Homo sapiens: one gene and its partners. The protein of the gene in region 7 purifies or fractionates together with the protein of the main gene of each other region. This does not show direct contact. Each region holds a gene or a part of one and is shown on either strand. Other genes may lie near its edges. The genes, in order: WDR4, EFL1, AGFG1, STAT5B, TOM1L1, SEPTIN10 and ALAD.

What was found.
Region 1: the proteins of ALAD (region 7) and WDR4 fractionate together in Homo sapiens (co-fractionation; one large-scale study listed by BioGRID). This does not show direct contact.
Region 2: the proteins of ALAD (region 7) and EFL1 fractionate together in Homo sapiens (co-fractionation; one large-scale study listed by BioGRID). This does not show direct contact.
Region 3: the proteins of ALAD (region 7) and AGFG1 fractionate together in Homo sapiens (co-fractionation; one large-scale study listed by BioGRID). This does not show direct contact.
Region 4: the proteins of ALAD (region 7) and STAT5B fractionate together in Homo sapiens (co-fractionation; one large-scale study listed by BioGRID). This does not show direct contact.
Region 5: the proteins of ALAD (region 7) and TOM1L1 fractionate together in Homo sapiens (co-fractionation; one large-scale study listed by BioGRID). This does not show direct contact.
Region 6: the proteins of ALAD (region 7) and SEPTIN10 fractionate together in Homo sapiens (co-fractionation; one large-scale study listed by BioGRID). This does not show direct contact.

Annotation. Positions count from the first base shown.
Region 1 is NC_000021.9:42,873,040-42,876,539, forward strand, and holds part of WDR4 (tRNA (guanine-N(7)-)-methyltransferase non-catalytic subunit WDR4), read right to left. Parts: intron 653-3,500; coding exon 512-652; intron 1-511. UniProt on the Homo sapiens protein: Non-catalytic component of the METTL1-WDR4 methyltransferase complex required for the formation of N(7)-methylguanine in a subset of RNA species, such as tRNAs, mRNAs and microRNAs (miRNAs).
Region 2 is NC_000015.10:82,252,735-82,256,234, reverse strand, and holds part of EFL1 (elongation factor-like GTPase 1), read left to right. Parts: intron 1-3,459; coding exon 3,460-3,500. UniProt on the Homo sapiens protein: GTPase involved in the biogenesis of the 60S ribosomal subunit and translational activation of ribosomes.
Region 3 is NC_000002.12:227,534,656-227,538,155, forward strand, and holds part of AGFG1 (arf-GAP domain and FG repeat-containing protein 1), read left to right. Parts: intron 1-189; coding exon 190-370; intron 371-1,969; coding exon 1,970-2,049; intron 2,050-2,245; coding exon 2,246-2,338; intron 2,339-3,500. UniProt on the Homo sapiens protein: Required for vesicle docking or fusion during acrosome biogenesis. May play a role in RNA trafficking or localization.
Region 4 is NC_000017.11:42,198,677-42,201,034, reverse strand, and holds the end of STAT5B (signal transducer and activator of transcription 5B), read left to right. Parts: 3' UTR 1-1,858; downstream 1,859-2,358. UniProt on the Homo sapiens protein: Carries out a dual function: signal transduction and activation of transcription. Mediates cellular responses to the cytokine KITLG/SCF and other growth factors. Binds to the GAS element and activates PRL-induced transcription.
Region 5 is NC_000017.11:54,903,852-54,907,351, forward strand, and holds part of TOM1L1 (TOM1-like protein 1), read left to right. Parts: intron 1-1,637; coding exon 1,638-1,716; intron 1,717-2,927; exon of another isoform or gene 2,928-2,935; intron 2,936-3,500. UniProt on the Homo sapiens protein: Probable adapter protein involved in signaling pathways. Interacts with the SH2 and SH3 domains of various signaling proteins when it is phosphorylated. May promote FYN activation, possibly by disrupting intramolecular SH3-dependent interactions.
Region 6 is NC_000002.12:109,603,967-109,607,466, forward strand, and holds part of SEPTIN10 (septin-10), read right to left. Parts: intron 1-3,500. UniProt on the Homo sapiens protein: Filament-forming cytoskeletal GTPase. May play a role in cytokinesis.
Region 7 is NC_000009.12:113,385,812-113,388,548, reverse strand, and holds the end of ALAD (delta-aminolevulinic acid dehydratase), read left to right. Parts: intron 1-187; coding exon 188-249; 3' UTR 250-2,237; downstream 2,238-2,737.

The DNA of each region.
Region 1 (3,500 bases), on a different chromosome or scaffold from region 7:
ACTGGCCTCCCCATCCCCACGGATCCACTCCCCATCCACTCTTCAGATACTCAGACATATGTGCACTAAACCCACCTAGCTTAATACTATGGTACAGACCCCTCAACAGACCCCAAATCCCTATCACTCTCCAGGGCAGGCTCACAGCCTTGTTCCTGCTAATCACAAGGACAGAGGACTGCCCTGGAAAACAGGGGCACCAACACTGTAGGTGGAGGGACCAGCAGCAGGGCCCGGCTCTGTCTTCCGAGCCCACTGATCGGAGTCTGCTATCTAACTGTTCACCACCCAGCGTGGGACAGAACAGCACCCCTGCACCCTCCCAGAACTGCCGTGAGGATCAGATCAGCCAACACACATGTGGCACTGAAAGTGGTGTCTGGCACTGAACTGCGGCTCCGTGTCAACCACTTATCACCCTTATCACCATGTTATGGTCACTATTGCTACAGGCATGCAAGGATAAGGTGTGCATTCGACATCTTAAGAATCCAGCGTTAGCATCTCATACCTGACACTCAGACATTGCCATGGTTTTGTACGGAAAAGAATCAGACGCTTACTGTCATCGGTTAAAGCAAAATAGCTGCCAGACTTGGAGAAGGTGGACGCCAGAATCGCACCGCTCCCCTGGTCCAAGGGCGCGTCCTCCCTGAGGAAGAGAGGAGGAAGACGGTTAAGCTTCACCTAAGGAAATAAGGCTGCATTCCTTGTTGGCCAGCGTGGTAATTTCTAACATGGGAGGAGGTAGAAACTGTTAAGGGGATCACGTAGCCAAAATACAGACATATTAAAGGGACATGGGGAAGTTCAAAACAGCTCTAATTTTATCAGCATGAAGCCTAACTAAACAGAAAATCTCCCAGCATACATGCCAGAACCCAGAGAGCTAAGCTGGAAGAACCCTCAATGACACATGGCCCTCTTCCTCATGGGCAAGGACTAACCCAAGGCTAGAGGCAGGGATAAACTCACATTAACAATACTAATAACAGGCCAGGTATGGTAGCTCAGACCTATAATCTCAGCACTTTGGTGTTGCGAGAAGTCAGGGACCCCAAACGGAGGGACCAGCTGAAGCCATGGCAGAAGAATGTGGATTGTGAAGATTTCATGGACATTTATTAGTTCCCCAAATTAATACTTTTATAATTTCTTATGCCTGTCTTTACTGCAATCCCTAAACATAAATTGTGAAGATTTCATAGACACTTATCACTTCCCCAGTCAATACCCTTGTGATTTCCTATGCCTGTCTTTACTTTAATCTCTTAATCCTGTCAGCCGAGGAGGATGTATGTCACCTCGGGACCCTGTGATAATTGCGTTGACTGCACAAATTGTAGAGCATGTGTGTTTGAACAATATGAAATCTGGGCACCTTGAAAAAGAACAGGATAACAGCAATGTTCAGGGAACAAGAGAGATAACCTTAAACTCTGACCGCTGGTGAGCCAGGCGGAACAGAGCCATATTTCTCTTCCTTCAAAAGCAAATGGGAGATATATAGCTGAATTCTTTTTCTCAGCAAGGAACATCCCTGAGAAAGAGAATGCGCCCCTGAGGGTGGGCCTCTGAAATGGCCCCCTTGGGTGTGGCCATCTTCTGGTCGAGACTGTAGGGATGAAATAAGCCCCAGTCTCCCATAGCGCTCCCAGGCTTACTAGGATGAGGAGATTCCCGCCTAATAAATTTTGGTCAGACCGGTTACTCTCAAACCCTGTCTCCTGATAAGATGTTATCAATGACAGTGGTGCCCGAAACTTATTAGCAATTTTAATTTTGCCCCGGTCCTGTGGTCCTGCGATCTCGCCCTGCCTCCATTTGCCTCGTGATATTCTATTACCTTGTGAAGCATGTGATCTCTGTGACCCACACCTATTCGTACACTCCCTCCCCTTCTGAAAATCCCTAATAAAAACTTGCTGGTTTTACGGCTCAGGAGGCATCACGGAACCTACCGACATGTGATGTCTCCCCCGGACGCCCAGCTTTAAAATTTCTCTCTTTTGTACTCTGTCCCTTTATTTCTCAAACCGGCCGACGCTTAGGGAAAATTGAAAAGAACCTACGTGAAATATCGGGGGTGAATTTTGCCCAATATCTGGCTGAATTTCCCCCAATACTTTGGGAGGACAAGGCGAGAGGATCGCTTGAGCTCAGGAGTTCAAGACCAGCCTGGGTAACATGGCGAAACCACGTCTCTACAAAAAACTACAAAAATTAGGCAGCCCTGGCGCGGTGCCTCACACCTGTAATCCCAGCACTTTGGGAGGCCAAGGCAGGTGGATCACGAGGTCAGGAGATCGAGACCATCCTGGCCAACATGGTAAAACCTCGTCTCTACTAAAAATACAAAAAAAAAATTAGCCGGGCATGGTGGTGCGTGCCTGTAGTCCCAGCTACTCAGGAGGCTGAGTCAGGAGAACCACTTAAACCAGGGAGGTGGAGGTTGCAGTGAGCCAAGATAGCGCCACTGCACTCCAGCCTGGCAACAGGGCAAGACTCCATCTCAAAAAAAAATTAGGTATGTTGGCATGTGCCTGTAGTCCCAGGTACTTAGGGGGATGAGGCGGGAGATCACCTGAACCCAGGAGGTCGAGGCTGCAGGGAGTTATGTTTGTGCAACTGCACTCCAACCGGGGTAACAGAGAGACCCTGTCTCAAAAAATAATAATAACGATAAAACAAACTGAGCCACAATACCAATGATAACTAAAGAAAGCCACCATACGAAACACTCACATGCTCTACTTTTATATCTCAATTAGCTGAAGTTAACTTCCTACACCCGCCTTCAACCATTACTTCAAGGAGCCAGTAAGATGTGATTACTGACAGAAACTAAAAGTATTTAGAAAAGTCCTAACACTGTGCTTTTTTTTTTTTTTTTTTTGAGACGGAGTCTTGCTGTGTCACCCAGGTTGGAGAGTGCGGTGGCGCAACCTCGGCCGACTGCAACCTCCGCCTCCTAGGTTCAAGTGATTCTCCCACCTCAGCCTCCCAAGTAGCTGGGACTACAGGCGCCCACCAGCATGCCTGGCTATTTTTAGTAGAGATGGAGTTTCATCACATTGGCAAGGCTGGCTTTGAACTTCTGACCTCAGTCAGCACCCTGGCTTCCCAAAGTGCTGAGATTATAGGCATGAGCCACCGCACCCGGCACTAACACTGTACTCTTTTTTTTTTTGGGAGACAGAGTCTTGCTCTATTCCCCAGGCTGGAGTGCAATGCCGCAATCTCAGCTCTCTGCAACCTCCGCCTCCCAGGTTCAAGTGATTCTTGTGCCTCAGCCTCCCAAGTAGACGGGATTACAGGTGCCTGCCACCACGCCCAGCTAACTTTTTTATTTTTAGTAGAGACAGGGTTTCGCCATGTTGGCCAGGATGGTCTGGAAATTCTGACCTCAGGTGATCCACCCACCTTGGCCTCCCAAAGTGCTGGGATTACAGGCATAAGCCACCGTGCTCAGCCAACAATGTACTCTTAATGCCTAACCT
Region 2 (3,500 bases), on a different chromosome or scaffold from region 7:
GGGAAGCTAGGCAGGACAGTTGCATAAACCCAGGAGTTTGAGGCTGCAAAGAGCTGTGACAGCAACTGCACTCCGGCCTGGTGGATAGCACAAGACGCCATCTCTTCAAAAACAACAACAATAACAACAAAACCTATGAGATATTGGAGAAAACTTAAATGGAAGGATATACCATATTTACGTATTGGCTGTCTATTTTTTAAATGACATTTAAAAAATATTGATCTGTAGATTCAGCAATTCCAGTAAAAATTCCAACAGATTTTTAAAAATTTCAACTTGATATGCTGATTTAAAAATATATACAGAAGAGCAAATAAACCAATTAATAGCCGGGACTGAAGAAGAGTAAGATATGGAAATACATCTTACCCACTGGCAAGACTTATCAATGTGTTGATGTGTTGTAACCTGTGGCCTGGAATCGGCTGAGGCATGAAATTGACTGACGGCTCAGAATAGTAGGCTGGCATTTCAGATCTGTGGGAAAAAGATGAACCTTTCAAGTGGTTCTTGGGCAACTGGTTATCCCTGTGGAAAAAAAAATTGGACCTCTAGTTAACACCACACACAAATTGCACAGTTAAGACATTTTTATTTAAAAGCTTTTTTATTTAAAAACTAAAGCTTTTAGAAAATAATATGGGCTAATATTTTTATGACCTTAAAGGAAGATTTCTTAAGACAAAAATGTGCAAACAATTTTATAAAAGGTTAATAAACTACTTAAAATTAAGTACATATTCATCAAAGATGCCAGAAAGAAATGGAAAAAACAAGCCTGGTAACTGTGAAAAATATTAATAACACACATATAATTGACAAAGGACTAATATTCAGAGACTATAAATAACTCCTATCCAAAACAAAATAAATCTGTATTGCAACCAGTAGGAAGGTGGACAAAAGCCTTGTATAGGCAATTCACAGAAAAGGAATGTTAAATGGCCAGTAAAAAACTTACAAAAGGATACTTAATCCCATTAATAATAGGATAAATGTAAATTTAAAACCATGAGATGCTATTTATCACCCATCTTACTTAGAAAATAAAGTCCAGCAATATCAGCTGTGGAGGTTATGGATCAAGAAACGCACTATTCCACTGTGGATCAGTCCAACAATTTGGAAAATAATTTGGAAATATCAAGTTAGGTTGAGGATGTGCAGATTTAATAACTCAGAAATTCTACTGGTAGGGAGTGTACAAGAGACCCACAACTGTTCATATCAACTCAGTAATAGTTACAAAAAACTGGAATCAGTCTCCATGTCCATCAGTACCCACCAGTTGAAGGTCTACATCTCATTCTCTAGACCTTGAAGTACATCAGTACTGACAGTGGTTTCATTTAAATAAAGATCCCATCCTTTTCCAACTCCTTAGCCCTAAGCACCAGACTAACCTCCTCCTCCTTTCTCCAGAATGATTTTCCCTTACCCTTCCTTCATTCTCTACAATGGACGAATGGGTCTGGTAGATTTGTGAGGTGGAGTCCTACAGTAATAAAAATGAATAAATTACGTCAATGTGGCTGAATCTCAGGAAAACAATATTGAGCAGAGAAAAAGTGACAGTATAATATATTAAGTATGATTCTTATAGAAGGCTTAAAACTTGCCACTCTAAATGATATATTGCTTAGTGACACACTCATTTTTAAAAATTATAAAGAAAATAAGGAAATGATCAAGATAAAATTCAAGATAGTGGTTACCTGTAAGCCAGGGGCACAGGGTACTTCAAAAGTAACAAACATTTTTTTTTTTCCTTTTGAAATGGGATGGTGCATACACAGGGGTTCATTGTGTTGTTATTTATGTATTACACGTTTCATACCAATTCAGTGCTTAAAAACATACATTATAGAAAACTGACAAGGGACTGAGACTTTCTGAAGGAAGGACTGACTGAGAGGTTGGAGAGGTGAAGGGAAACCAGCAGTGGGATCTAAGGAGAGATGGAGGTAAATTAAGAGGTTTCAGACTCTTGGAAGAATTTCACATATGCACGTAACACACATGCACACAAAGGGTAACTGTCATGCTGCACTGGAATCAAGAAAAATGAGGATTGAGAATGATTATTGCGTTTCGCCAGAGGTCATTGATAGCTTTTAGGACTTTGATTTTGCCAGAGCTGTGGAAATGGAAGCTTTTCTGAAAATTTCAGAATTAATATGGATGAATAAATGTGGCAGTTCATATCAACAGATAATTCTTGGTGCTTTTGAATGAAAGAAAGGAGAAAATAGACAGGTTAAGAATTTTTCAAAAGTTTGACAGTGGAGAGAATGGAGGAAGGGTAAGGGAAAATCATTCTGGAGAAAGGAGGAGAAGGTTAGTCTGGTGCTTAGGGCTAAGGAGTTGGAAAGGGATGGGATCTTTATTTAAACGACACCACTGTCAGTACTGATGCACTGCAAGGCCTAGAAAATGAGATGTAGACACTCATTGGTGGGTATTACAGTGTTATGAAAGTCATCAACTAAATGGTCATATTACAAATATTTTCTACTGTATTCTTTTTTTAAAAAAGATGTATTCAAAATCTATTAATTTGGGAAAGGAATAAAGACTTCTCTTGCTTCTAGAGACTTCTGTTTCAGTCTCTGCTCAGAATTTGTCAAACAGCTTATAAATAGGAAAAGAATGGCTATGTTATTGATGTTTAGAAAGAATTCCCTCAAATGCTACTGTCCGTAAGTTGTTCTTGACCTGCCCCATCATTCACGGCTGATATTTGGATGAGCAACACTCTGGGGAGGGTATGCAGTATTTCAATACATTTATGGTTCCTAGTGGTTATGTTTTTCAATTTTTCATGTTCCCTTCCCCTCAATCAACTTCACTTCTCCAGACCCCCATCATCTTAAAAAAAAAAAAAAGAGAGAGGGCTAGGCGCGGTAGCTCATGCCCGTAATGCCAGCACTTTGGGAGACTGAGGTGGGTGGATCACCTCAGGTCAGGAGCTCAAGACCAGCCTGGCCAGCATGGCGAAACCCTGTCTCTACTAAAAATACAAAAATTAGCCAGGTGTGTTAGCACATGCCTGTAATCTCAGCTGTTTGGGAGGCCTGAGGCAAGAGAATCACTTGAACCTGGGAAGTAGAGTTTGCAGTGAGCCGAGATTGTACCATTGCATTCCAGCCTGGGCAACAGAATAAGACTCTGTCTCAAAAAAAAAAAAGGCTCTATATAGGTTAAAATTTAAGTATTGGCTGGGCATGATGGTTCACACCTGTAATCTCAGCACTTTGGGAGGCCACGGTGGGAGGATCACTTGAGGCTAGAAGTTCAAGACTAGTGTGGGCAACATAGCAAGACCCTGTCTCTACAAAAATAAATAAAAATAACAAATTAAATATAAGTATTTAAAACAAAAATCTAAATTAGCAAATTTTAATGTTACATTTTAATTCTTTGGGAAGTGAAGATGCATATGTTGCATTTTTCCAGTTAAGGTACATGGACAGCAGAGAAGATGAACAGATCCGAGG
Region 3 (3,500 bases), on a different chromosome or scaffold from region 7:
TATCACAGTGGTATGTATAACAACTAATCCTGTCCAGTATGGTCCAGGTTATTTATTAGATTAATGATTTGGAATCCTGCTTAACTCTAAATCCATTTTAAGTTTACCTGTGTTTCATGGCAAATGTGGTTGATAAGTTGAAAGTGTAACTTTAAATTTTTGGTGTAACTTGATTTTGTTCGTTCCCAGGTGGTGATCAGGGAAGTGGCTTTGGGACCACAGGTAAAGCTCCTGTTGGTTCTGTGGTTTCAGTTCCCAGTCAGTCAAGTGCATCTTCAGACAAGTATGCAGCTCTGGCAGAACTAGACAGCGTTTTCAGTTCTGCAGCCACCTCCAGTAATGCGTATACTTCCACAAGTAATGCTAGCAGGTACCTTGTCTTAGCTAGCCCTCCTGCTTTGTGTTTTATCTTTTTTTTCCAACTTTGAATAATCAATTAAAAAATGACTGTTTCAAGGTATAATTTTAAAATTCTTGGATATTTTTGTAAATTTGAGGAATTTGAATTTAAATGCTAATTAAAATATAATCCTTGAATAATTGCCATAATTTTATCTTTTCATTGAATCAGACGTTTTGTTATGTTCTGTCCTTGAACACTAAACCGTATTTGAGAGCATGTACACATCTCAAAATGGACAGTTCCTTACAGATTGTACTCAGCAGAGAATCCATTTAGTAGTCAAATAATATACTTTAAAAATAGTTTTTAGTCATGATGATTAAACAGTGAAAGTCCCATATTATAGGCTTAGTTGTAAATACAGATTTTTAGAAGTGTTTGCACCAAAGCCCAAAATCAATTCTGTATCTCTTCAGTGTCATCCTCATATTTACAAATAAGCACATCTGCTGTTATGTTCATATATATCTGTTAGAATTCTTGGCAGTAGGAAGTCTAACACATTTTAGGACATTACACTTGTAAAAAACTTTTCTAGTCTTTATTTTAGAGTTGCGGAAATAGTCTCAGAAATACAAGAGATTTACCTATAACAATGTTTTATTCATCTCTGTTTTCCAATCCTGTGGATTGTATTTACTAATTTCTTTAGTTATCCTGGTAGCTTATTTTCCTTTAGCATCTTTTCTAGAAAGAAATGTTAGGATTGTAACACTTCCGGAAACATAAAGTCTGGAAACATACTTTATATATAATACATGATTTATTGATATTACATTACAGTACATCAGGGGTTCACAAACTGTGGTCCATGGAATGTTTGGGGTACCTGAGACCCTTTCATGGGGTCTGTGAGGTTAAAACTTTCTTTATAATAATTCTGAGAGATTGTTTACCTTTTCATTAATTGATATTTGCATTGATGGTGTGAAAACAATGGCAAGTAAAACTTGCTGGTGTCTTTTTATTTTTTTTTAATACTTTAAGTTCTAGGGTACATGTGCACAACGTGCAGGTTTGTTACATAGGTATACATGTGCCATGTTGGTTTGCTGCACCCATCAACTCATCATTTACATTAGGTATTTCTCCTAATGCTATCCCTCCCCCAGCCCCCCACCCCCGACAGGCCCCCAAGTGTGATGTTTCCCACCCTGTGTCCATGTGTTGTTCTTGTTGTTCAACTCACACCTATGAGTGAAAACATGCAGTGTTTGGTTTTCTGTCCTTGTGATATAGTTTGCTTAGAATAATGGTTTTTGCTGGTGTTTTAACATGAATATTAAGATAGTGGCACCAAACTGTACTAGTCGTTACAATAGTCATATTCCTTCCCACTACACATTCAGTTTTACTTGTATTTTTTATTTTTTTATGATGATTCTTAATGAAGCAGTAACAATTGTTTATTTTATTACATCTTTACACTTAAATGTCTTAATTTTCTTTGTGTTGATACTGATGCTGTGATACACGATATGTTCATTATTTTATGGCTACCCTGTAAATCGTTACTTTCTTTTTTTTTTAAGAAAAAAAATGAACTCTTTCAATATTTGTTCTCAGCAATGTTTTTGGAACAGTGCCAGTGGTTGCTTCTGCACAGACACAGCCTGCTTCATCAAGTGTGCCTGCTCCATTTGGAGGTATGTGCTTCTGGTATATACACTGGTTTTTACAAAGAACCCAAATATATATTGTGTAGCATTTTCTTAGGAGTCAAAGCAATGATTTGTTATCAGAATCCTTGAGTTTTCTGTCTTGATAAATATAGTGAAATAATTTAAATCTTAAATACAAAATGTATTAGGATTTTATAGTGTATTTTATAATTTTTTAAAGCTACGCCTTCCACAAATCCATTTGTTGCTGCTGCTGGTCCTTCTGTGGCATCTTCTACAAACCCATTTCAGACCAATGCCAGAGGAGCAACAGGTAAGAAAAAGAGACAGTGGAACAGTAAGTTTTGGGGAAGACATTTATCAACAAAGACACCATGTGAAGAACACCAGAAAATGGGGCCTCTTTCTTAGTGAAGTGAATGGCAATGGATAGAAGAGTTTGTCCATAAAGACAAATTCTAGCTGAAAGTTCATAAAATCCTGGAATTTAACAGTTGAGAGGGACCTTAGAAATTATCTAGTGTCTGCCCTTTCCAGTTAAAGCTTTCATTTTTCAGGTAGGGAAGCCCAGACATGGAGATGAGACTCCACAGAACGTTTATGACAGAGATAGGACTTGAACAGAGCAATTTAGATGTATTTGGTGGTCTGGTTTCAGAATTACTGGTTGTCACTCATGCAGTCTTAATGGAACCATTTTATGAGAAGTTTTTATTTTCCCTATGAGATTGCATCAGATGACTTTACTACATGAATTCTTAATTATTAGGTCTTTTTCTAGTGAATATCTCTTTCAGGTGTTAACATTTTTTAAGTTGTGGAAACTTGATTCAGTCGTGGGTATAATACTGAATATTTTCTCTTTTGATAATTTTTTCCCTTAATTCTCTTTGTTGTCTCCATTTTATTTTTTGATTCATACTGTAAGCCATTCACATCTTTCTCATGTTATACCTCTGATTTTTGTCGTATTACCTTAAACACCAGAGATATTTGCCAGTATCTTGGAATGTCAGCAGGTGCATTTGGTATGGCTGGGTATCCATTAAATCTAGAGTTTGTATGCTTTGTTTTTGTGTATATGTCACAATAATTTAGAACTAAAGCCTAAACTCCAGTTATAGCAAATGTTGATATGAACTCTTGAGAGATTAGGTACTTGTAACATTTTAATCAAACCATTAAGAATTACTAGTTTTTAGTAAATCTCTTTGTCATTGACAAGATTAAGAATCACAGTATTAGGAGTTTGAGCTGTAACTATTTTCTTTTCACATAAATGTCTTCACTTATACTCTGTTGGTAAGTAGCATAATAGATGTTTGATAAGTATTGGAATTTCACACAAAATTTAACTTTAAAAAAAGTTTAATTCAAGTGTACCTAATGAATGATTGTTTTAAATTTCCATTTGTACAATTTATCAGGTGTGTGATATGTGCAGTGTTTCTGTTTCTTAGCATACTGTTTTGATT
Region 4 (2,358 bases), on a different chromosome or scaffold from region 7:
GCACCCTGGAATTGCCACTCAGTTCCTCTGGGTGTGCACATATGTTTGGAGAAATAGAGGAGAGAAAAGAGGGCCACGTAACTGAGAGCTTACAGTGCCAATGCCGTTTGTGTTCTGGCCAGAGTGGAGTGCGCAGCCCTGACTCCCAGGCGCTGAGATTGTTGCCTGGTTACCCAGGAAGCTGCTGTTCCGGCTGCCCAGCCTTTCTCTGAGCCAGCGGATGCACAGTCCGTGGCCTTCTTCAGGCTTATTGATGATGCTTTTTGCAAATGTTGAATCATGGTTCTGTTTCTAAGTTGGATCTTTTTTGTTTTCTCCTTGCCACCCTAATTTGACATCAAAATTCTCTCTTGTGCATTGGGCCCTGGGTCATTCAAACCCAGGTCACCTCATTCCCCTTCTCTGTTCACACCTAATGTCTTGAAGAGTAGGTAGCAGCAGTGTGGGCTGAACCTAGGCCAGCTTGCTTAGCGGGTCACCCTGCTGTGAAGTCCTGGCAGGTGTTGGTAATGTGTGGAAATGCAGTCAGCAAGTTTGCTGGGGAGTTTGATAAAAGTATAAAACAAAACAAAAAAAGCCTCGGTATAATTTTGTTCCACGACTTCTTCTGTAGCTTTACACCAGAAGGAAGGAATGGGCTACAGCAGGTAGTGGAGGAAGAGGGGGGTGAGCAGGTGTATTAAAATAGCTTACGGGTAAGGCCTAAAAGGTCACCCCTCGGCCCCCTCTCCAAAAGAAGGGCATGGGCACCCCCAGGAGAGGATGGCCCCAAAAACCTTATTTTTATACATGAGAGTAAATAAACATATTTTTTTTACAAAAATAACTTCTGAATTTATCAGTGTTTTGCCGTTAAAAATATTCCTCTATAGTAAATTATTTATTGGAAGATGACTTTTTTAAAGCTGCCGTTTGCCTTGGCTTGGTTTCATACACTGATTTATTTTTCTATGCCAGGCAGTAGAGTCTCTCTGCCTCTGAGGAGCAGGCTACCCGCATCCCACTCAGCCCCTCCCTACCCCTCAAGATTTGATGAAAATTCCAACCATGAGGATGGGTGCATCGGGGAAGGGTGAGAAGGAGAGCCTGCCTGCTCAGGGATCCAGGCTCGTAGAGTCACTCCCTGCCCGTCTCCCAGAGATGCTTCACCAGCACCTGCCTCTGAGACCTCGCTCTCTGTTCCAGCAACCCTGGTTGGGGGGTCAGACTTGATACACTTTCAGGTTGGGAGTGGACCCACCCCAGGGCCTGCTGAGGACAGAGCAGCCAGGCCGTCCTGGCTCACTTTGCAGTTGGCACTGGGTTGGGGAGGAAGAGAGCTGATGAGTGTGGCTTCCCTGAGCTGGGGTTTCCCTGCTTGTCCAGTTGTGAGCTGTCCTCGGTGTTACCGAGGCTGTGCCTAGAGAGTGGAGATTTTTGATGAAAGGTGTGCTCGCTCTCTGCGTTCTATCTTCTCTCTCCTCCTTGTTCCTGCAAACCACAAGATAAAGGTAGTGGTGTGTCTCGACCCCATCAGCCTCTCACCCACTCCCAGACACACACAAGTCCTCAAAAGTTTCAGCTCCGTGTGTGAGATGTGCAGGTTTTTTCTAGGGGGTAGGGGGAGACTAAAATCGAATATAACTTAAAATGAAAGTATACTTTTTATAATTTTTCTTTTTAAAACTTGGTGAAATTATTTCAGATACATATTTTAGTGTCAAGGCAGATTAGTTATTTAGCCACCAAAAAAAAGTATTGTGTACAATTTGGGGCCTCAAATTTGACTCTGCCTCAAAAAAAAGAAATATATCCTATGCAGAGTTACAGTCACAAAGTTGTGTATTTTATGTTACAATAAAGCCTTCCTCTGAAGGGATGGTATTGAGTCCTGTTTTTACTTTTTTCTGTCACATGCCAAGGGAGGGCAGCTTGAACACGGAAAAGTTTCAAGTCATCAGCGTGACCCTGAAAAAGGGAACTGGTTGGGTGGTTGGGAGTTGGCTGCCTCAGAGGGCACGTCATTAGCTCTGATGGCAGATGGGGCCTTTCATACCTTCCTGCTCATATGATGTTTTGAAAATAAGAATGATGGTCTCCTAGCCTCCTGACTCCAGAAAGCTTGTTAGCCAGGATGGTCTCGATCTCCTGACCTCATGATCTGCCCACCTCAGCCTCCCAAAGTGCTGGGATTACAGGCGTGAGCCACTACGCCCGGCTGAAAGCCTGTCCTTAAGATTCAGCACATTTAGAGTACCTGACCCTGAGTTCAGCGTTGTGTGTGGGATGAGAAATGGTGCCTTCCCTGCAGAGGCTCACAGTTGGAGAAAGGCAGCTACCACAACTGATTATGCTAGGATATCGCTTCCTGCTGCAATC
Region 5 (3,500 bases), on a different chromosome or scaffold from region 7:
CGTTTTCTCTTGCAAATATTTCGGTTTTGTTGTTGAAAGAGTGTTTTCATCATTCATTAGGCACCCTCTATCTTTTGAAGACTTGTCAGGTTGAAATATTGGGGCAGCTGCTTGCTTCAACATGTGGAGTATCCATAAATCCACTATAATTTTTCTCCTCTTGGCAGTTTCTTTAATAGTTTCAAATTTTGTCACTGTGAAGCTCAAATTCCTTCCTTCTAAAAGATTGAAAAAGGCCGGGCGCAGTGGCTCACGCCTGTAATCCCAGCACTTTGGGAGGCCGAGGCGGGCGGATCATGAGGTCGGGAGATGGAGACCATCCTGGCTAACACGTTGAAACCCCATCTCTACTAAAAAATACAAAAAAAATTAGCCAGGCATGGTGGCGGGTGCCTGTAGTACCAGCTACTTGGGAGGCTGAGGCAGGAGAATGGCGTGAGCCTGGGAGGTGGAGCTTGCAGTGAGCAGAGATCATGCCACTGCACTCCAGCCTGGGTAACAAAGCAAGACTCTATCTCAAAAAAAAAAAAAAAAAAAAAATTGAAAAAGAGAGATTGTGTCCTTCTTTAGGAATATCTCCAGCTCCCAGTGCCAGTATTTGATGAAACCATCAAATATTATCAAGAAGCTGGTTGACTCCCGGTGGTGACCTATTTCTGAGCAATTATTTCTAGTAACCAGGAAACAATCTAGCAGTCTTTTTTCCTCCCTGTCCCAGGACAATTTTTTTCCTTCTGAATGTCAACTCACCCATGTTTAAGCTGTATTCTTATAGCATGTGCTATCGTTTGTTCTTAAACTTCTTAAACTTTCGAGAATCGAAGTTATAAGAAAAAAGTCATTAAGAAGAGCAAACTGGTTTGCTTGTAGTCAATTACAAGTTATTCTAAGGAACACAATTCTGGTAATTTTCCTGGGCATATTAAAGTGATAACTGGCAGTAAAAGAGATTTAGTCTAGCTTATGTTGATAAAGAAAACATCAAACTTAATTATTGATTATAAATAAATGGAAAGCGCTTATGGTTAGTACTTTTAAGTGTGTATGGTTTTTTTCCTATAATCCTATTTACCATGTTTAGTTCCTCTGGGAACATTTTCATTGATAATACCAATTCATTGATAATACAAAAAGAGAATCTTAAAGTAAATTTGGACCCTTATAAACAGTCCTTTCTTTGTAACATAAAATTGTGGCGTATTGGCAGCTGACCTAGTTTGTTGTAATTCCTGTTACATCCCCTTGTCTATAGGGTGCTCAGGAAATACTAATAGTTTTAATAAAAATGGTAACATTCATTGTTTCGGAAGTTGCATTTCCTATAAGTTGGTTCTGTGCATTGATAGAGGGATACAGGAATGAGTGCATTTCATGGGTAGTACTTTCTAGGTAATAGTCTTGTACGAAAATATTTTATTTGATTCTCATAAGGGGTTAGGTGGTATTGTCTGCCTGTATGCGTGAAGAAATTTAGGTTCAAGAAGTTAAGTCATTCGCATAGGGTCCCACAGTAGAACCAAGGCCTTAGTTTTCTGCTCCTTAGCCATTCCTCTCTCCAAATGCATGTTGCTTTTCAGAGAGACTGCTTGTTTTCAGCAATGCCTAAATTGGTGATTTCAGTGTATTTATTGCTATAGGCCAAAAGATGCAGTGAAAGCTTTGAAGAAAAGGATTTCCAAAAACTACAATCATAAAGAAATCCAACTTACCTTGTCAGTAAGTACTTTAATTTTATAATTAAGACTCGAGGATTTCTCAAGCTATAGTTACATTTTTAATCCTGGGTAAAAAATAAGAAGCAAGTATTCTGAGAAAACTAATAGGTTAGCTAGGAGTTGTGTACAGTATGACTTAAAACTCTTCATTTATGAGAATTGCAGAATAAAGAAAGTTTAGTTGTTTATAATAGCATTTAATAGCATTTAATTTCATGGAAGGAGCTTGTTCCTGAAAAATCAATTTTTCTTGGTCAGGAGATAGGAATTAGTGGTTAACATGTATTACACATGGTGAACTGATCAAGAAGTTTGTGTAGTGGCTGGGTGTGGTGGCTCCTGCCTATAATCCTAGCACTTTGGGAGGCCGAGGTGGGATGATCGCTTGAGCCCAGGAGTTTGAGAACAGCCTGGGCAAGATGGTGAGAGCCCGTCTCTACAAAATGTTTAAAAATTAGCCAGATGTGGTGGCCTGCATCTGTAGTCCCAGCCACTTAGGAGGCTGAGGCAGGACAATCACTTGAGCCCAGGAATTCAAGATGGCAACGAGCTATGATCATGCCACTGCAACTCAGCCTGAGTGATAAAGAGAAACCTCAACTCTTAAAAAAAAAGTTTGTGGCTGGGTACGGTGGCTCACACCTGTAATCCCAGCACTTCGGGAGGCCGAGGCAGGTGGATCACCTGAGGTCAGAAGTTCGAGACCAGCCTGACCAATATGGTGAAACCCCGTCTCTACTAAAAATACAAAAAGTAGCAGGGCGTGGTGGCGTGTGCCTGTAGTCCCAGCTACTTGGGAGTCTGAGACAGGAGAATTGCCTGAACCTGGGAGGTGGAGATTGCGGTGAGTCGAGATCGCACCACTGTCCTCCAGTCCTCCAGCTTGAGCAACAGAGCAAGACTCCTTCTCAAAAAAAAAAAAAAAAAGTTTGTGCATGTATTAATTAACCATAATTTAAGATGAGGAGAATTGAAATTTTGAAAAATACCTCCCTGTAAGCTTTCTGCCTTACTTGAACAGCTTTGTGGAATCCTGAGATGCTCTCAGCTCATTAAATTCCAAACAAGTTCTGCTGCCTGGCGTGATTTGGAGAATGTTCTATGTTGGTTTAAGCAATTCTCCTGTGTGTTGTATTGTCTGTGATTTAAGTGTGGACTCTTATTTGATGTGTTCCCATTTTCCCACCATCCTTGGCAATATGACCTCTTCAGTCACGTTGGTGAGTTGTCCTTTTTACTTTAGTATGTGTTGCAAGCCCTGCCTGCTGCCTGAGAGTGAGCTGTGTAGCTTTCTGATTTATTCTGCACGCCTTTGTTTATCTCAGCCCAGCCCAAGACTGTGCATGGTCACGGCACTAATCAGCCAACATCACGCTGCGTTAGGAGCATTAGTCTTTATCAAGAGGACTTTGGGGCATATGTGAGCATAGCTCCTGGTTTCTAGTTACATGAAGAAGAAAATGGACATCTTGCATAGGCTCGCTGAATAAGCAGAAATGCTGTGAACGGTCTTCATGATTTGATCATTAAAGAAACCCTTCACATTGGGATCTGAATATAGTTTTAGAGGCATTTTCCCCCTTCACCTTTTTTTTTTTTTTTTGACCTCTTACCTGTCCTTAACTCTTGAAGGTCACAGAATGGAGAAGACGGGAGAGAGGAGTGAGGCACTTCTGTAGAAATCCCAGAATGATGGGTCACTGATAGAAATGCCTGGCACCTGACCAATGCTCTTGACAACCCTGTGAAGTAGTTCTATTATTAACTCCATTTAACAGATGAAGA
Region 6 (3,500 bases), on a different chromosome or scaffold from region 7:
CTGGCTAACACGGTGAAACCCCATCTCTACTAAAAATACAAAAAAATTAGCCGGGCATAGTGGCAGATGCCTGTAGTCCCAGCTACTCGGGAGGCTGAGGCAGGAGAATGGTGTGAACCTGGGAGGTGGAGATTGCAGTGAGCCGAGATCATGCCACTGCACTCCAGCCTGGGCGACAGAGCGAGACTCTGCCTCAAAAAAAAAAAAAAAAAAGAATTAAAAAAAAAATTAGCCAGGTGTGGTGGTGTGTGCCTGTAATCCCAGCAACTTGGGAGGCTGAGACAGGAGAATTGCTTGAACCTAGGAGGCAGAGGTTGCAGTGGTTGAGACTGCGCCACTGCACTCCAGCCTGGGTGACAGAGCGGGACCCCATAGAAAGAAAGAAAGAAAAAGAAAGAAAGGAAAGAAGGGAAGGGAAGGGGAGGGGCGGGGCGGGGAGAAAAGAAAGAAAGAAAAAAGAAAGAAAGAAAAGAAAAGAGGCCGGGCGTGGTGGCTGAGGCCTGTAATCCTAGCACTTTGGGAGGCCGAGGCGGGTGGGATCACGAGGTCAGGAGATCGAGACCATCCTGGCTAACATGGTGAAACCCTGTCTCCAGTAAAAATACAAAAAATTAGCCAGGCATGGTGGCGGGTGCCTGTAGTCCCAGGTACTCAAGAGGCTGAGGCAGGAGAATGGCATGAACCGGGGAGGCGGAGCTTACAGTGAGCCAAGATTGAGCCACTCCAGCCTGGGTGACAGAACGAGACTCTGGGGAGGGGAGGGGAGGGACAACACAGTAGTGGAATCTGCGTGTGCCAAGGGTACAAATATAACTGGTATGGTTGGAAAATCACAGTGAGCTCATCACTGAAGCCCAAGGAGGCTTACATGTAAATGCAAGGACAGCAGAAAAGGTGAGGCTGCAAGAAGCTGACTTCATGATTCTGAGTCCAAGTGACTCAAACTAAGGTCACTGGAGAGACGTCACTGTGAAGCAGGAAAGAGAATAGGAGAGGAATCAGCACAGGTTTGATGCAACTTTGGAACTACTGAGTTTAAGGTTCCTATGAGCACCTTGGATCCCTCAAAGAACTTTTATGTAAAATTTTACATTATCAAAAACAAATATACGTGGCCCAGTGGTAATTCTCACTTCTCTTGAAGTTTCCATTGATTCCTTGAGACTTGAATTGTTCTACACTGATAAGAGCATTAAAGATTCAGCTTAATTCATCAAGCCAGTCAGGCTTAGTTTTTGGGCTGAATATAATTATACCATATTACTAGTATGATCAGGCAGATCACCTGAGGTCAGGAGTTTGAGACCAGCCTGCCCAACATGGTGAAACTCTGTCTCTACTAAAAATACAAAAATTAGCCAGGCATGGTGGCAGGTGCCCGTAATCCCAGCTACTCAGGAGGCTGAGGCAGGAGAATCGTTTGAACCCGGGAAATGGAGGTTGCAGTGAGCTGAGATCGTACCACTGCACTCTACTCTGAGCGACAAGAGTGAAACTCCATTTCAAAAAATAATAATAAATAAATAAATAAATTGTACTTGAATAACAAAGTTAATTCATAAAAGTATAACATAATTTTCTGACTAAAAGGTAGGTAAATGGGAAAGTGTAGCTAAAAAAGCTAATCAGAATACCTGAGGATAAGCTAAATAATATCTGTATAATTTTTGTAATCAACAAAAAAGAAAATATATAGCAAAATATGCAAATACAAAACAAAATTATTTTCTCCAACTGTTCAAATTATAATGCTGTATTAGGTTCTTTAGTCCTCAGAGTTACATGGAAACTGTAAATTATAATTCTTTTCTATACAACAGAATTTCTGTTACTATGTGACAAGCAGCCTATCTTCTACCAAAACAGAGAGCCCCCAGAAATTCTCTCAATGATCCATGTCACAAAGAAGAAGAGTTAGCATGACATCAGTATAAATGTATGTTAAGAAGGCTGTTAGAATTAACTGTATAGTAGCAACAGATGCAAAATGCTGCATCATTAAGAACTGCCAAAGCCTGGAATGAGGTCTGGGGCAAGGAGGTACAAAGACAACATGGAGGAAACAAAAGACATTTTGTGCAAGGATGTGTGAAAGTTGCATCTCATCCAAAAAACTAGAGATAACAGTACTCAGCTCATGGGCTGGGAGAATAAAATGTGGTAACACAGGCCGGGTGCCGTGGCTCATGCCTGTAATCCCAGCACTTTGGGAGACCAAGGAGGGAGGATTACAAAGTCAAGAGATTGAGACCACCCTGGCCAACATGGTGAAACCCCGCTTCTACTAGAACTACAAAAATTAGCTGGGTGTGGTGGCACATGCCTGTAATCCCAGCTACTCCGGAGGCTGAGGCAGGAGAATCGTTTGAACCCGGGAGGCAGAGGTTGCAGTGAGCCAACACTGCACCACTGCATTCCAGTCTGGCGACAAAGCAAGACTCTGTCTCAAAAAACAAAAAATAAAAAATAAAATGTGATAACACAAGGGAAGTACTTGCCATGGTGAATGCACTTCAGCATCTGGTAGCATTCAATTACCATAGTGGACATAGTTATAGCCATAAAGGACAAGTCCACAGAAAAATATATCTTGACTACTTTATTACCTGCAAAGATCTTCAGAGATTACTAGGCCACTAAAAGTTGAAAATAATAGCTAAAAAGTTCCCTTTTATTAAAAAAAAAATTGCACTAAAAATTTTAAGCTTTTTTTTTTTTTTTTTTTTTTTTTGAGATGGAGTCTCACTCTGTCACTCAGGCTGGAGTGCAGTGGTGCAATGTCGGCTCACTGCAACCTCCGTCTCGCAGGTTCAAGCGATTCTCCTGCCTTAGCCTCCCGAGTAGCTGGGACTACAGGCACGCACCACTAGGCACAGGGTTTTACCATGTTGACCAGGCTGGTCTCAAACTCCTGACCGGAGGTGACCCACCCACCTCAGCCTCCCAAAGTGCTGGGATTACAGGCATGAGCCACCACGCCCAGCAAAGCTATTTCTTTCATGAATAGTGAAGAATTGAAAGGCTTCTCATGTTATTTTAAGTTTCAGCATATAAACAGTGTCAGACAGTGAATATTCTTCCTGTCTAAAATGTCTAGCCTGCTCTTCTCCGCTAATCCATGGCCATCGCTTCGTTTACTATTTAGCTCAATATTGAGCTTTTTGTAAAAAGCTTTCATTCTACTTATTTAAAGGTAGTATAAATCATAATCACACAAATAATTTGTATTTTCCAAAAATTCATATTAGTAAGCTGCTTGGAGTAAGACTACAGTCTCCATAGAAACAATATTACAAACAGCTAAGGTCCTGAGTAAGTTCTTGAATGCCTCATTTAACTTATAATGTACAGAGTATTTAGTCTTAGACTGTTTTCAAATCTAGTAGCAGACTCAGAAGAAAAAACATATGTTGCCCTATTGCTAGGATGGCTAACCATGGATCATGCATTCTCAATGGGGGCAGTACCTGTATTATCTCTCCCCCTAAAGAGAGCAGAAA
Region 7 (2,737 bases):
CCAAAAGAGGAAATGACTTGCCCAAGAAATAGAGTTTCCCAAAGCTGGGCTCCGTCTCATGTGGTGTGCCCACAGGCTGTGCTTCTTCATGGTAGCCTTCTTCCCCGCCTGGCCTTCCCATCGCAGAAGGTGTGCTCAGAGCTGATCAGCGTCCCCCCAGCAACTTTCTGCATCTCTCCCAACACAGGTGCTGACATCATCATCACCTACTACACACCGCAGCTGCTGCAGTGGCTGAAGGAGGAATGATGGAGACAGTGCCAGGCCCAAGAACTAGAACTTTAAAACGTTCCCGGGGCCTCAGACAAGTGAAAACCAAAGTAAATGCTGCTTTTAGAACTGTGCCCTCATGCCCTCTTCCTGCTCACATGCTAGCGGGGCCCAGCAGCCCTGGGTGGTTTTGCCAGCATGCTAACTCTTGTAACTCGCAGCTGCATCCTATGAGCTCTCCCAAGCTTCCCCGCCCCTCCCCTGGGTCAGCCGTGAGGCCCACCTTTGCCACCCTCAGCTCTTTCCTCTGGTGTGGCTTCAGCTTGAAAGCAACCTGGAGTCGGGGGCACAGCCTTTGGGGCCTGGCTGGGAGAGGGTCTTGGAGCATTAGGGGAAGAAGAGAGCAGTGGGATCTTGGGGCCTGAGAAGCCTTGGAACGCTTCTGGCAGCAGAGCTGGGTGTGGGAATGAGGCCTAGATCGATATCCCTGGGTTAGAGTTGAAATTTGCCGCAATTCCACTGGAAGGCATTTCCCACGAGGCCAGAGGTTGCCAGGCTGCCTGAGGTCTCCTATTCTACTCTGAACCATAAACCCAGAGAAGAATTACTCATTAACCAGCATAAATACTGCCTGAGGATCAAAACTCAGAGGCAAAGAGGGAGTTCCTGACTGCTAGAGGTGCCACCACCACAAACACTTTTTATTCAGGAGATACTTTTTGAGAATCTCTGCTCTGTTCCTAGGTTCAGTGCTGGGTCCTGGGAATACAGCAGGACAGACCTCAGCTTATCTCTTCATAGAAATTATACAAAGAGAATTGGGGAGACAGCTAAGAAGAAAACAAAGAAATAAAGCAGTTACAAATTGTGATAAGTGCTTTGAAGGAAAGAAGGGGTCTGAGACAACAACAGGGAAGGGGCCTCTCTTGAAACAGTAGTTGGGAAGGAGGCAGACATGCACCAGTGATGTGGTGACAGGTGCTCTGAAGGAGGTCACCAGGACCTGACCTCTTTGAAGGATCAGAAAATACTTCCCTGAAGGACTGACATTTGAGCCTAGACCTGAAGGGTGAGCCATCAAGCTAAGACAATTGGGGAAGAGCATTCCAGGGAGAGGGAGGAGTTGTGCAAAGGCCCTGGGGCTCCTTCTAGCTGGAGGAATGCAAGGCTAGCTTGTCTGGAGCACTGAGAGGATGGCCTGAACTGAGTGGAGAGAGACAGACCAGGACCAAACCATGCAGAGGTCAAGGGCCACATTCACCTTTTCAGAGTGACTCAATCAAATTTGTAGTTTGTAAAAGTATTTTAACAGCTCTGCGGCAAAGTGCAAATGAAAAGTCTTGATGGCATGGACTGGAGCGGGGACAGTGGGGATGGAGAAAGGGGAATGGATTGTGGATGTGTTTAGAAGGTAGATTCGATGTGAAGGATGAATCTGGCTTGACCTTCTGGGTGGCTGATGGGCCATTTACTGAGATGGGGCAGCCTGGAAGAGGAACAGAAGCAGGGTCGGGGTGGAGGGAGAATACTAAACTTAGCTTGAGACATTTTGCAATAAGGAAGCTATATCTAGAGTGCTTATGTGACTCACCTAAGGCCACTCAACAAGTTTGTGGCAGAACTGGATTAGAACTGCACAGAAAACAGCCAAGCTGGGATTTGAACCCATGTAGTCCAACTCCAAGGCCTCTGCCCCTAACCACTGTGCCATACCACCTCCCAATAATCAACAGCAAAATTATAGGTCTAACAATGTTTTATAGACACCCCTCCATTTATGTGATGGGTTTGCATCCTGATAAACCCATCATAAGTTGAAAATATGATCATAAGTTGAAAATATGATCATAAGTCAAAAATGTATTTAATATACCTAACCTACCAAACATCATAGCTTAGCCTAGCCTGCCTTAAACATGCTCAGAACACTTACATTAGCCTACAGTGGGCAAAACTATCCAACACAAAATCTATATTGTAATAAAGTTGTAAAGAATTTTGAATAAAAATTCAATATTTGAAGTACAGTTTCTACTGAATGTCTTGTTTCATACTGTTGTAAAGTCAAAAATTGTGAATTGAATGATCACAGTTCGGGGACCATCTGCAATTAGCCCCAGTTATACGGGGAGACCAAGGAGACCAGGCACCTACTTGGTTGCAAGTGATGGAAATCCAGTTCAATAGCAAAGAAGGACATGATTGGTTTTCATAACTGGATTGAGATAAGGACAGGTGTGGTTGGGCCCAGGGTCAAACCCCATGGAGGTCTCTGTCCCTTTCTAACTCTCGTCTGTGTTTGCCCCAGCTTTATACTCAGGTGGGTTTTTGCCACTTGCCAGCAACATGATCCTCAATAATTCTAGGCTTAAATAGTCGTTAAGATTTGTAATCCCAGAGAAAGAGCCTTCCTGTCCCATCACTCACATAGCAAATCTCTGGAGGTCTCTGATTGGGCCTGTTCAGGCCACATGGTCCACTCTTGGCTCAGTCACTGTAAACAATGGGATGGGAGATGGCGCCACAA